Regions from separate parts of the Homo sapiens genome. Here region 1 is linked to region 2. The links come from fine-mapping of genetic effects on gene expression. A gene starts in region 2. The other region holds a variant in brackets. All regions are shown on one strand. Distances are between the middles of the regions.

Region 1 (5,372 bases), 48 kb after region 2:
CTGAGGCAGGTAGACTGCTTGAGCTCAGGACTTAGAGACCAGCCTGGTCAACATGGTGAAACACAGTCTGTATTTTAAAAAGACAGGCCAGATGCAGTGGCTCACGCCTGTAATCCCAACACTCTGGGAGGCCTAGGCAGGCACATCACCTGAGGTCAGGAGTTCGAGACCAGCCTGACCAACATGGAGAAACCCCCGTCTCTACTAAAAATACAAAATTAGCTGGGCATGGTGGCACATGCTTGTAATCCCAGCTACTTGGGAGGCGGAGACGGGAGAATGACTGGAACCCAGGAGGCGGAGGTGGAGGCTGCAGTGAGCTGAGATCACGCCATTGCACTCCAGCCTGGGCAACAAGAGCGAAACTCCATCTCAAAAATAAATAAATAAAAATAAAAATAAATTAAAAAGGGGGTGGGCCGGACATGGTGGCTCATGCCTGTAATCCCAGCACTTTGGGAGGCCGAGGCAGGCAGATCACCTGAGGTCAGGAGTTCGAGACCAGCCTGGCCAACATGGTAAAACCCCATCTCTACTAAAAATACAAAATTAGCCAGGTGTGGTGGCACACGCCTGTAATCCCAGCTTCTCGAGAGGCTGAGGCAGGAGAATCTCTTGAACCTGGGCGGCAGAGGGTGGAATGAGCTGAGATCGCGCCATTGCACTCCAGCCTGGGCAACAAGAGCAAACCTCTATCTCAAAAAAAAGAAGTGGGAGAACGGTGGGGTGGAGATGTTGGTTTCTTGTTTTGGAACTCAGTTGATACCTTCTGATTTTAAATTTTAAAATGGCTGTTATACTACCTGGAAACAAGCTGTTTATTTTTTTTTATTTGATATATATATATATTTTTTGAGACAGAGTCTCACTCTGTCGCCCAGGCTGGAGTGCAGTGACACAATTTCGGCTCACTGCAATCTCCACCTCCCTGCAATCTCTGTCTCGTGGGTTCAAGCGATTCTCCTGCCTCAGCCTCCCAAGTAGCTGGGATTATGGGCGCCTGCCACCACGCCCGGCTAATTTTTTTGCATTTTTAGTACAGATGGGGTTTCACTTTGTTACCCAGGCTGGTCTCAAACTCCTGACCTCAGGTGATCCACCCACCTCGGCCTCCCAAAGTGCTGGGATTGGATTACAAGTGTGAGCCACCACGGCCGGCCAGAAACAGGGTGTTTCTGTTTACAAGAACATATCTTAAAACCATATGTGTGCCTCTTAATAATTTTCATAATTTTTTTAACTTTTGAGAAAGTTTTTTTTTTTTTTTTAAGACGGAATCTCACTCTGTCGCCCAGGCTGGAGTGCAATGGCATGGTCTCCACTCACTGCAACCTCCACCTCCCAGGTTCAAGTGATTCTCCTGCCTCAGCCTCCTGACTAGCTGGGATTACAGGGGCGTGCCACCACACCTGGCTAACTTTTGTACTTTTAGTAGAGATGGGGTTTCACCATGTTGGTCAGGCTGGTCTCGAACTCTTGACCTCATGATCTGCCCGCCTCTAGAGAAAGTTTTTAAAATTGCAAATATCTTGCTTTGAAGAAACAGTTATCTCAAAAAGGAAATAGCTATCTTCAGTTTTTGCTTAACTTTTTCTTGTATGAATTTAAGTAAAATTAAATCAATACATTTTCATTTAAAGAAACTGACATGAAATGCAAAAAAAAGGAAGCCACCTGACTTGTGGCTCCACACAACAAACTGACTAGCATGGACCCATCTCCTGTTGTAACACAGAATTTGCTGGATAAAACATCACCTGAGGCCAGGCGCGGTGGCTCACGCCTGTAATCCCAGCAGTTTGGGAAGCCGAGGTGGGCAGATCACAAGGTCAGGAGTTCAAGACCAGCCTGACCAATATGGTGAAACCTCGTCTCTACTAAAAATACAAAAATTAGCCGGACGTGGTGCCGTGTGCCTGTAGTCCCAGCAACTCAGGAGGCTAAGGCAGAAGAATCACTTGAATCCGGGAGGCAGGGGGTGCAGTGAGCCGAGATCATGCCACTGCACTCCAGCCTGGGCGACAGAGCAAGACTCCGTCTCAAAAATAAATAAATAAATAAATAAATAAATATCACTTGAAATTGTCTCAACAGCAGATGTTGTGTATCATCAGCAGCCACAGCAGCTCTGGGGTGTCTAGGGGTGTCCCATCTGGCATTAGAAGCCCCCAGCTCTTGCACCCACACTGGTAAGGGGAAATTCCAGCCTCAAGCTCCCAGCCAGAGTCACTGTGTGTTGCTTACAGCCTGAAGAAATTAACAGGATACACCAAGCTTCACCCTCAGGAAACAGGAAAAGCAGAACCAGAGGGCAACCGAGTGAGACGTGGACTAGAGCTCCACTAACATCTGGACCTCCTTGCCCCGCGCCACACCAAGGGGCCTACTGGGCGCCACAGGCTAGGCAGGGAGCGCTTCTGTTCCTAGTGCTCCCCACGATGCCCCGGAAGTTCAGGGAGGTAAGAAGCGTAAGGTCAGAGAACTGGAGCCAGCTGTCAACTGCCCCCGCCCCACCCAGGCCATTTGGCTTCTGCTACCGGCATGCTGCTCAGGGCTCTGCCCAAGGACAACGACGAGCCCCCTGTGTCCTCTCCTGGGTCATCTTCCATGACCCTGAGGCAGCGAAGACAAGCTCGGCAGCTCCCTGAGCTGCTTCACACCAACTACCTATGAGTCTGAGGCCAGCATCCAGGCGCTGCCCAGACCCTGAGAGTCCCTGGACCATGACGTAGCCTGTGTGTGAAGGGAGCAAGACAGCCTTGACAGAAGCACAGAGAACGCCACTGGGATTCTTAAAGACGCGAAGGGAAAAGGGTACCTTCAAGAAAAAGCAGGACAGCGTAGCCACACCACCTCTCCCCATCTGGGAATTCTCCAGGTCCAAGTCTTGTACTTAATTCTAATTCTGCTCATCATGTTTCCCTCCCCACCCCTATCCCCAACAGCACAGAAGATGCTGGCGCTGCATCTCCTCCAGCACCGAGAGGCCTCGAGGCCCCAGGGAGCGGAGGCAGGGTTCAGGCACAGCC[G/A]CGGGAACGCCCACACCCAGTCCTGCCACACCGTAAAACATGTCTGCGGCATCAACCTCACGCAGGCCTGGCGGACCTGAAGACTGCGACACGGACACTCAAGCCCGCGGCTCTCCGGCCTGGGCTCAGGGCGGGGGGAAGGAGAGGGAACCAGGGGTACCCACACGGCGCTCCTCAGGGACAAGACCCCAGGCTCGGGCCCGAGGCGGGCTCGCTGGAGAGACGCCGCAGCCTCGCGGGGGCGGCCGTGGCTGCGTCCGGGAGACTGACTAGCCAAGGCCCCGCTCCTGGACGCCCTAGCGGGGCGGGCAGCGGCCTGCGGACCCCGCCCGGCCCTCTCGGCGGACTGTGCCCTGGCAAGGCGGCCGGGCTCCGGAGCCAGCCGGGGCTGCGGCTAAGGCGTTGCCCGCCCCCGTCCGGAACGCGCCACTCACCCGGCGCGGGCGGGGAGAGGACGGCGCGAGCCCGACCCTGCAGCCGCTGACTGGACCCCGCCGGCGCGGGCCCCACAGATCAGCCGACAAAGCCTGCACCGCCGCCAGCCCGCCGCGACCGGAAGTCGCGAGAGGCCCCGCCTGGGAAACTTCCTGCGCCGTTCTAGGAGCGCCAGGGATCGGCTCCCCTCTCAGTGGTGCGGACTTCCGGGCCCGGGGACTAAGACCCCCGGAGGGGCCAGGGGTGTCCGGCAGGAGCGGCGTTGCTACGCGGTTGGGAGGGTTGCGGGCCGGGAAGCGCGGGCTCGGAAACTCGGGTCTGGAGCTCGCGGCGAGGTCCGACCGCAGCCCAAGACCAGCTTCTCAGGAGGCGAGGATCCAGGGGAAGTAAATACCGTGAGGGCCAAACTTCACCTCTCTGCGCCCCAGAGAAGTGGGGAAGCGGCGCGCTGTGGAGTTTTTTGGTTTTCGGGTTTTGGTTTTTTTAAGACAGGGTCTCGCTCTGTCGCCCAGGCTGCAGTGCAGTGGCGCGATCTCGGCTCACTGCAGCCCCGACCTCCCGGGCTCAGGTGGTCCTCCCATCTCGGCCTCCCAAAGTGCTGGGACCAGAGGCGCGCGCCACCGCGCCGGCTCATTGATTCTTGGTAGACATTACTCATTGCTAGAATGAGTCACAGTCCGAAATAATCGAAATAATTACATTCCCCTGCCCCCCCCCCCCACCAAAAAAACATTATATTCGTATTTTGGGTTTTCTTTTTCCATTTTTCTGCTAGCACTGAGGAAACTTGTTTACCTAAATTGTTAGATAGGATTGGGAGGAATTTTGTTTTAGCAATGACGCTCAATTTATTTTTATTTTTATTTTTTGAGATGGACTCTCGCTCTGTCACCAGGCTGGAGTGCTGGAATGCAGTGGCGTGATCTCTGCTCACTGCAACCTATGGCTCCCTGATTCAAGCGATTCTCCTGCCTCGGCCTCTGGAGTAGCTGGGATTACAGGCATGCGCCACCACGCACAGCTAATTTTTGTATTTTTAGTAGAGACAGAGTTTCACCTTGTTGGCCAGGATGGTCTTGATCTCCTGACCTCGTGATCCACCCGCCTTGGCCTCCCAAAGTGCTGGGATTACAGGCGTGAACCGCTGTTCCCAGCCGACGCTCAATTTCTTTAGCTCTTTCTGACTTATATGCAAAAAACATAACAGCAGTTTATCACCAAGTGTACTTAATGACCTGTCAGTTGACCACTTGAATAGGTCCTTTTTAAATTTTGACAGAAGCAAACAAAGAATTAGAAGTAACCTAAAGTGCAAAACTACATGAAGTCTTTCCCAGCCAATAAATTCACCTACTTTCTTAAAATCAACTGCAGAGTTTTGAATTGTCCCTTTGATGAGGAGGACAGCCCAGGTACCAAGGCCAGGTACCAGGGTGAATAAAGGAAGAGAAGCAACGTGGGAGAAGGAGCTGTGGCCAAGGGGGACACGCTAGGCGCGTGCCCTCATCCAAGGACCTTCTACAGGAATTCCAGGGCAGAATCCATGTGGAACTCCTGCTGTGATTCTCCAGGGGCTCCCCGGCTCTTGGAAAGGCTTCTGTGTTCCAGGGGTGTGTGTGAAAGCCCTACATTGAGCGACCCCACCTCTCATCCAGGCCCGGAGACCTTGGCTGCTGCAACCCTATTGCCAGCTTACCATGGGACCCAGCTCTTAAGGCGAGAAGGGCTTGAGGCCTCTTCCCCACAGGGCTTACAGACCTTTCAGCCTCCCTGTCCGCAGGCCCAAAGAGCTTGAGAACACCGCCTGAGCAGGTTGTCACAGATCAAAATCTGCCTTGTACACCTGACGCCTGCCACTTCAACCCCACCAACAGCTAACACATGGCTGCAGCTTGGCACTTAATACTT
Region 2 (5,372 bases):
CGAGGTGGGCGGATCACCTGAGGTACGGAGTTTGAGACCAGCCTGGCCAACATGGAGAAACCCCATCTCTACTAAAAATACAAAATTAGCCAGGCGTGGTGGCACTTGCCTGTCATCCCAGCTGCTCAGGAGGCTGGGGCAGGAGATTCACTTGAACCCAGGAGGCAGAAGTTGCGGCGAGCCGATATCGCGCCATTGCACTCCAGCCTGGGCAACAAAAGCAAAGCTCCGTCTCAAAAAAAAAAAAAAATCACAAATTGGATTTATCAGAATTAAAAATTTTTGTTTACCAAGGCAGTTAAGAAAAAAAAAAAAGGAGACGGGGTGCAGTGGCTCACGCCTGTAATCCCAGCACTTTGGGAGGCTAAGGCAGGGGGATTGCTTGAGGCCAGGAGTTTGAGACCAGCCTGGGCAACATAGGGAGACCTCTGTCTCTATTGTTTAAATTTTTTTTTCTAAAAAGAGACACAAAGGTAAGCCACAGACTAAGAGAAAATATTCCCAATACATGTATCTGACAAAGGACTTATATAAAGAATTGTAACTCCTACAAATCAATAAAAAAGAGAAATAAAATTTAAACTGGGCAAAATATTAGAACAGACACTTCAACCAAAGTTATACAACGGTCTATAAAAACATGAAAAGGCACACTGAGCACATGGGTCATGGGTGGTGTTTTCCAATTAGAACACCTTGCTGAGTTCCTCTAGCAAGTAGCAATGACCACAGTGATAAAAATAACAGCTCCCGGCCATTCGCGGTGGTTCACGCCTGTAATCCCAGCACTTGGGGAGGCCGAGGCAGGTGGATCACCTGAGGTCAGAAGTTCGAGACCAGCCTGGCCAACATGGTGAAACCCCATCTCTACTACAAATGCAAAAAATTAGCCAGGCTACTTGGGAGGCTGAAGCAGGAGAACTGCTTGAACCCGGGAGGCGGAGGTTGCAGTGAGCCGAGATTATGCCACTGCACTTCAGCCTGGGAGACAGAGCGAGACGATCTCAAAAAAAACAAAAACAAAAACAAAAAAAAAACACCCTCTCCCCTCAGCTCAACAGCTGTGTTTGCACAACCTGGACTGGGCTTCCCAGCCTGGAAAGCAGAGTCAGGGAGAACCGTGAGATAGGCCAGGAAAGGGGCTAAAGCCAGATTCCTCAAGGCCTCCTGAGCCGTGGTTTCATGTGTAATGCAACAAAGTTTAATACGGGAGAACAGAAGGATATTGTCATAGCTACTTTTTTTCCCCTAGGCAAATTAACACAGGATTTTTTTTTCTCTGAGGCAGGTCCTTGCTCTGTCACCCAGGCTGGAATGCAGTAGTGCAATCACAGCTCACTGCAGCCTCGACCTCCTGGGCTCAAGTGATCCTCCCACCTCAGTCTCCCCAGTAGCTGGGACCAAAAGCGCATGTGCCAACATGCCCTGCAATTGTTTTAAGTTTTTTGCAGAAACGGGGTCTCACTATGTTGCCAAGACTGATCTCAAACTCCTGGCCTCAAGAGATCCTCTGGCCTCAGCCTCCCCAAGTGCTGGGGTTACAGGCGTCAGCCACAGCATCCGGCCTAAGCTACCTTTTTTTTTTTTTTTTTTTTAATAAGATGATGTCTCGCTCTGTCGCCCAGGCTGGAGTGCAGTGGCGCGATCTCTGCTCACTGCAACCTCTGCCTCTTGGGTTCAAACGATTCTCTTGCCTCAGCCTCCCCAGAGTAACTGGGATTACAGGCGTGCACCACCACACCCGGCTAATTTTTGTATTTTTTGTAGAGACAAGGTTTCAACATGCTGACCAAGCTGGTCTAGAACTCCTGGACTCAAGTGATCCACCTGCCTCGGCCTCCCAAGAGCTGAGATTACAGGCGGGAGCCACCTTGCCTGGCTAAGCTACATTTTATAAAAGATCCTCTGTGATGAACAAATGAGAAAGCAGCAAAACAGGATGGGGGTGGGGAGAAGACAGGGAGGCGTTCAGGTGAGAGAGGAAGACGGCCAGGATTGGGACTTACAGGGTGGGAATGGCAAGGAGGCAAATGGTTCAGTTATGGAGCTAACGCACCAGTGACTGTGTGGCTGGGCGTGGGCAGGAAAGGAGAAGAAGCGAATCTCGGGTTTCTGCCTCCTCCCCTTCGCGGTGGAATGCCTGGGAGGACCAGAGGGTGGGGTGTGGAGGTTGCAGGAGCTCAGCCTGGGGCCGGGGAGCTTTGGGTGTTATGAATCAAGTCTAAGCGCTCGGGTCTCATCGGAGCGATAGGGCTGGAGACACAGGTGTGGAAAGTGTCTATGAGGGATAACTAAGGTCACGATCGCGGACGGGGTCGGCCAGGAAGAAACCAGCTTCAAGAGGATACGCAACCGGGTCCTGACAAACCTGCAAGTGTAAGGAGCGAGGAGAGAAGAGGAGGCCGAGCCGGAAGAAGCTGAAGAACAGCCCCCGAATAGCCGAGGGCACGGGCAGCCTCCCCGGTCTGTCCCAGCAGCCGCGACGCTGGGTCTCACAGCCCTGGGGCGGCCGCAGAATTAGAAGGTTTGACAGCCCACGACCCAGGGACGGAGGGGCGGCGGGGGACACGGGCGCACTCACCACAGGGGCGTCCTCCACTAGGATGCTGCATCCACTACGCCGCGCCGGTAGCCCAGACTTTTACAAACTTCCCGAGCGGAAGTTGTTATCCGAAAGCTTCCGGCCCCTCTAGGAGCCCACGTCTCGGTGGTGCGCGCTGGCCTTCCAGGCCGTCCAGGCCGCCCGCCTCGCCCCGCACCGCTTGTGGTTCCGCCGCAGCCGGCAGGCCCCGCCCCGGTCACAGCCAAGCGCCACGACGCCCGGCTGATTTTTTTGTAATTTTAGTAGAGACGGGGGTTTCATCATGTTGGTCAGGCTGGTTTTGAACTCCTGACCTCAGGTGATCCGCCTGACTTGGCCTCCCAAAGTGCTGGGGTTACAGGCGTGAACCACCGATCCCGGCCCTCATAACCTAAAGTCGGCCTAAAGGTTTATCCTACAAAGTGAACTGTAACCTAACTGGAGGTGTGAACAGACTGTCACTTGCTCTCCTGCCAGTCACCCAGTTCCAGCCAATCAAGGGTGTAGGGTCCAGCCCTGCGGGGCTAAGCGGGTGTTGTCCCCGTGTGCGGAGATGAGAGATTGTAATAAATAAAGACACAAGACAAAGAGATAAAGAGAAAACAGCTGGGCCCGGGCGACCACTACCATCAAGACGCAGAGACCGGTAGTGGCCCCAAACGGCTGGGCGCGCTGATATTTATTGCATACAAGACAAGGGGCCAGGGTAAGGAGGGTGAATCTTCTAAGTGATTGACAAGGTGAAGCAAGTCACATGATTACAGGACAGGGGGCCCTTCCCTCTTAGGTAGCGGAAGCAGAGAGAGAAGGCAGCATAAGTTAGCATTAATCAAAGACTTTAAGACTTTCACTATTTCTTCTACCGCTATCGACTACGAACTTCAAAGAGGAACCAGGAGTACAGGAGGAACACGAAAGTGGACAAGGAGCGTGAACATTGAAGCACCACAGGGAGGGGTTTAGGCCTCCGGATGACTGCGGCCAGGCCTGGGTAATATCCAACCTCCCACAAGAAGCTGGTGGAGCAGAGTGTTCCCTGACTCCTCCAAGGAAAGGAGACTCCCTTTCGCAGTCTACTAAGCAACGGGTGACTTCCCAGACACTGGCGTTAGGGCTTGACCAAGGAGCCCTCAAGCAGCCCTGATGTGGGAGTGACAGAAGGCTCACCTCTTGCCTTCTAGGTCACTTCTCACCATGTCCCTTCAGCACCCGACCCTATATCCGCCGGTTATTCCTAGGTTATATTAGTAATGCAACAAAGAGTAATGGTAAAAGCTAATGATTAATAATGTTTATAATAATGATTGATAATTGTTCATGGTCATCTCTATATCTAATTTGTATTATGACTATTCTTATTCTAACTATTTTCTTTATTATACTGAAACAGTTTGTGCCTTCAGTCTCTTGCCTAGGCACCTATGTAATACTCCACCCACACAAGGGTGGCCAACTGTTCAAACCTAGACACGCCTTTCTATAGATTCCAGGTCTTAGGTAATCACTTAACTTATTCAACCAATTGCCAATCAGAAAATCTTTGAATCCACCTATGACCTGAAAGCATCCAAAGTATAGCCAAGAAATATATTTAAAAGTAAAATAGGCCGGGCACGGTGGCTCCCGCCTGTAATCTCAGCACTTTGGGAGGCCGAGGCGGGTGGATCACGAGGTCAGGAGATCGAGACCATCCTGGCTAACATGGTGAAACCCGTCTCTACTAAAAATACAACAAATTAGCCGGGCATGGTGGCGGGCGCCTGTAGTCCCAGCTACTCGGGAGGCTGAGGCAGGAGAACGGTGTGAAACCCAGAGGCGGAGCTTGCAGTGAGCCGAGATCGCGCCACTCCATTCCAGCCTGGGCGACAGAGTGAGACTCCGTCTCAAAAAAAAAAAAAAAAAAAGAGTAAAATATTTTGATTTCCTTTATCTGTCATGTGACGTTATGCTAGAGTCAGGTTGGAAACTAAGCCAATTATATAGGGTTAAATAAAACCTATCTGATGACATTTTATGGTTTGTAGGGCAGACTCCCCAGGCCCTTTAGATAAGAACTTGAGCAAGAGAGAAAAAGATCAGTTTAGTCCTCACTAGTAAAGGAGTGATAGCGACAGGAGGCAGGCAGCCAAATGCCCAGCCAAATGGGGGCAGGTCCCCAGTGAAACCTCCACCTCGACGCTGAAAACAGCTTAAAGCCTGAAAGCCAAGCTGCAAGTCGAATCCTCAGACCGGATTGAGAGCCTGTCTTCCTGTCTGGCGCACTTTCCTCTGATTGGTCCCACCCTTCACCTATTTTACATATACCTACCCTTTTCTAATTGGCTTTCTACACTGTCATGCCCACCTTTCAGTGGTGCCTTTGCTTTAACCTTTTTTGCATTACTCACAAACCAATCAGCACGCCCTCCCCATTCTGAGTCCATAACATGGGGAACTTTCCTGCCTTCATGTAGGGGGACCACGCCATGTCCCCTCTCCACTGAAAGCTGCCCCGTCACCCAGTGAAATTCCCCGCCTTGCTCACTCTTCGATTGTCAGAGCCTCCTCATTCTTCTTGGCCGTGGACAAGCATTCGGGAACTCGGGGGAGTTGACGGGCTGTCTCCTGCAGCAGGTAGTGTGTCAAGCGAGGCCCTGGCGGGGCGTCGCTGGCCGGAGGTCCCTGGCTTGCAGAATGACTGAGAACAACATCCTATGTCAATAGGAATGTCTTCAAAATTGTTAGTTACATATAATTTAATACTTGTTGATTTGCTGTTACTTATGTTTTTGGTTTTGAGCCTCTGGAATCG

Which allele goes with the higher level. Alleles are on the strand shown, and positions count from the first base shown. SD is a standard deviation of normalised expression in the study named.
For the expression in prefrontal cortex of the gene that starts at base 2,645 in region 2, A is the high allele of the variant in region 1 and G is the other (large effect, 1.0 SD a copy in BrainSeq).

Evidence for each region.
Region 1: its variant is fine-mapped to the expression of ZNF707 in prefrontal cortex (BrainSeq, PIP 0.95).

The regions. Positions count from the first base shown.
Region 1 is chr8:143,634,237-143,639,608 of GRCh38, reverse strand. ZNF623 (zinc finger protein 623) reads right to left here and starts at 3,590. Exons shown (of 2, transcript NM_001261843.2): 1 at 3,464-3,590. The variant G/A (reference allele first, on the strand shown) is at 3,030.
Region 2 is chr8:143,681,752-143,687,123 of GRCh38, reverse strand. It overlaps ZNF707 (zinc finger protein 707), which reads right to left and starts at 2,645. Exons shown (of 6, transcript NM_001100598.2): 1 at 2,582-2,645. RefSeq lists a silencer at 4,845-5,070.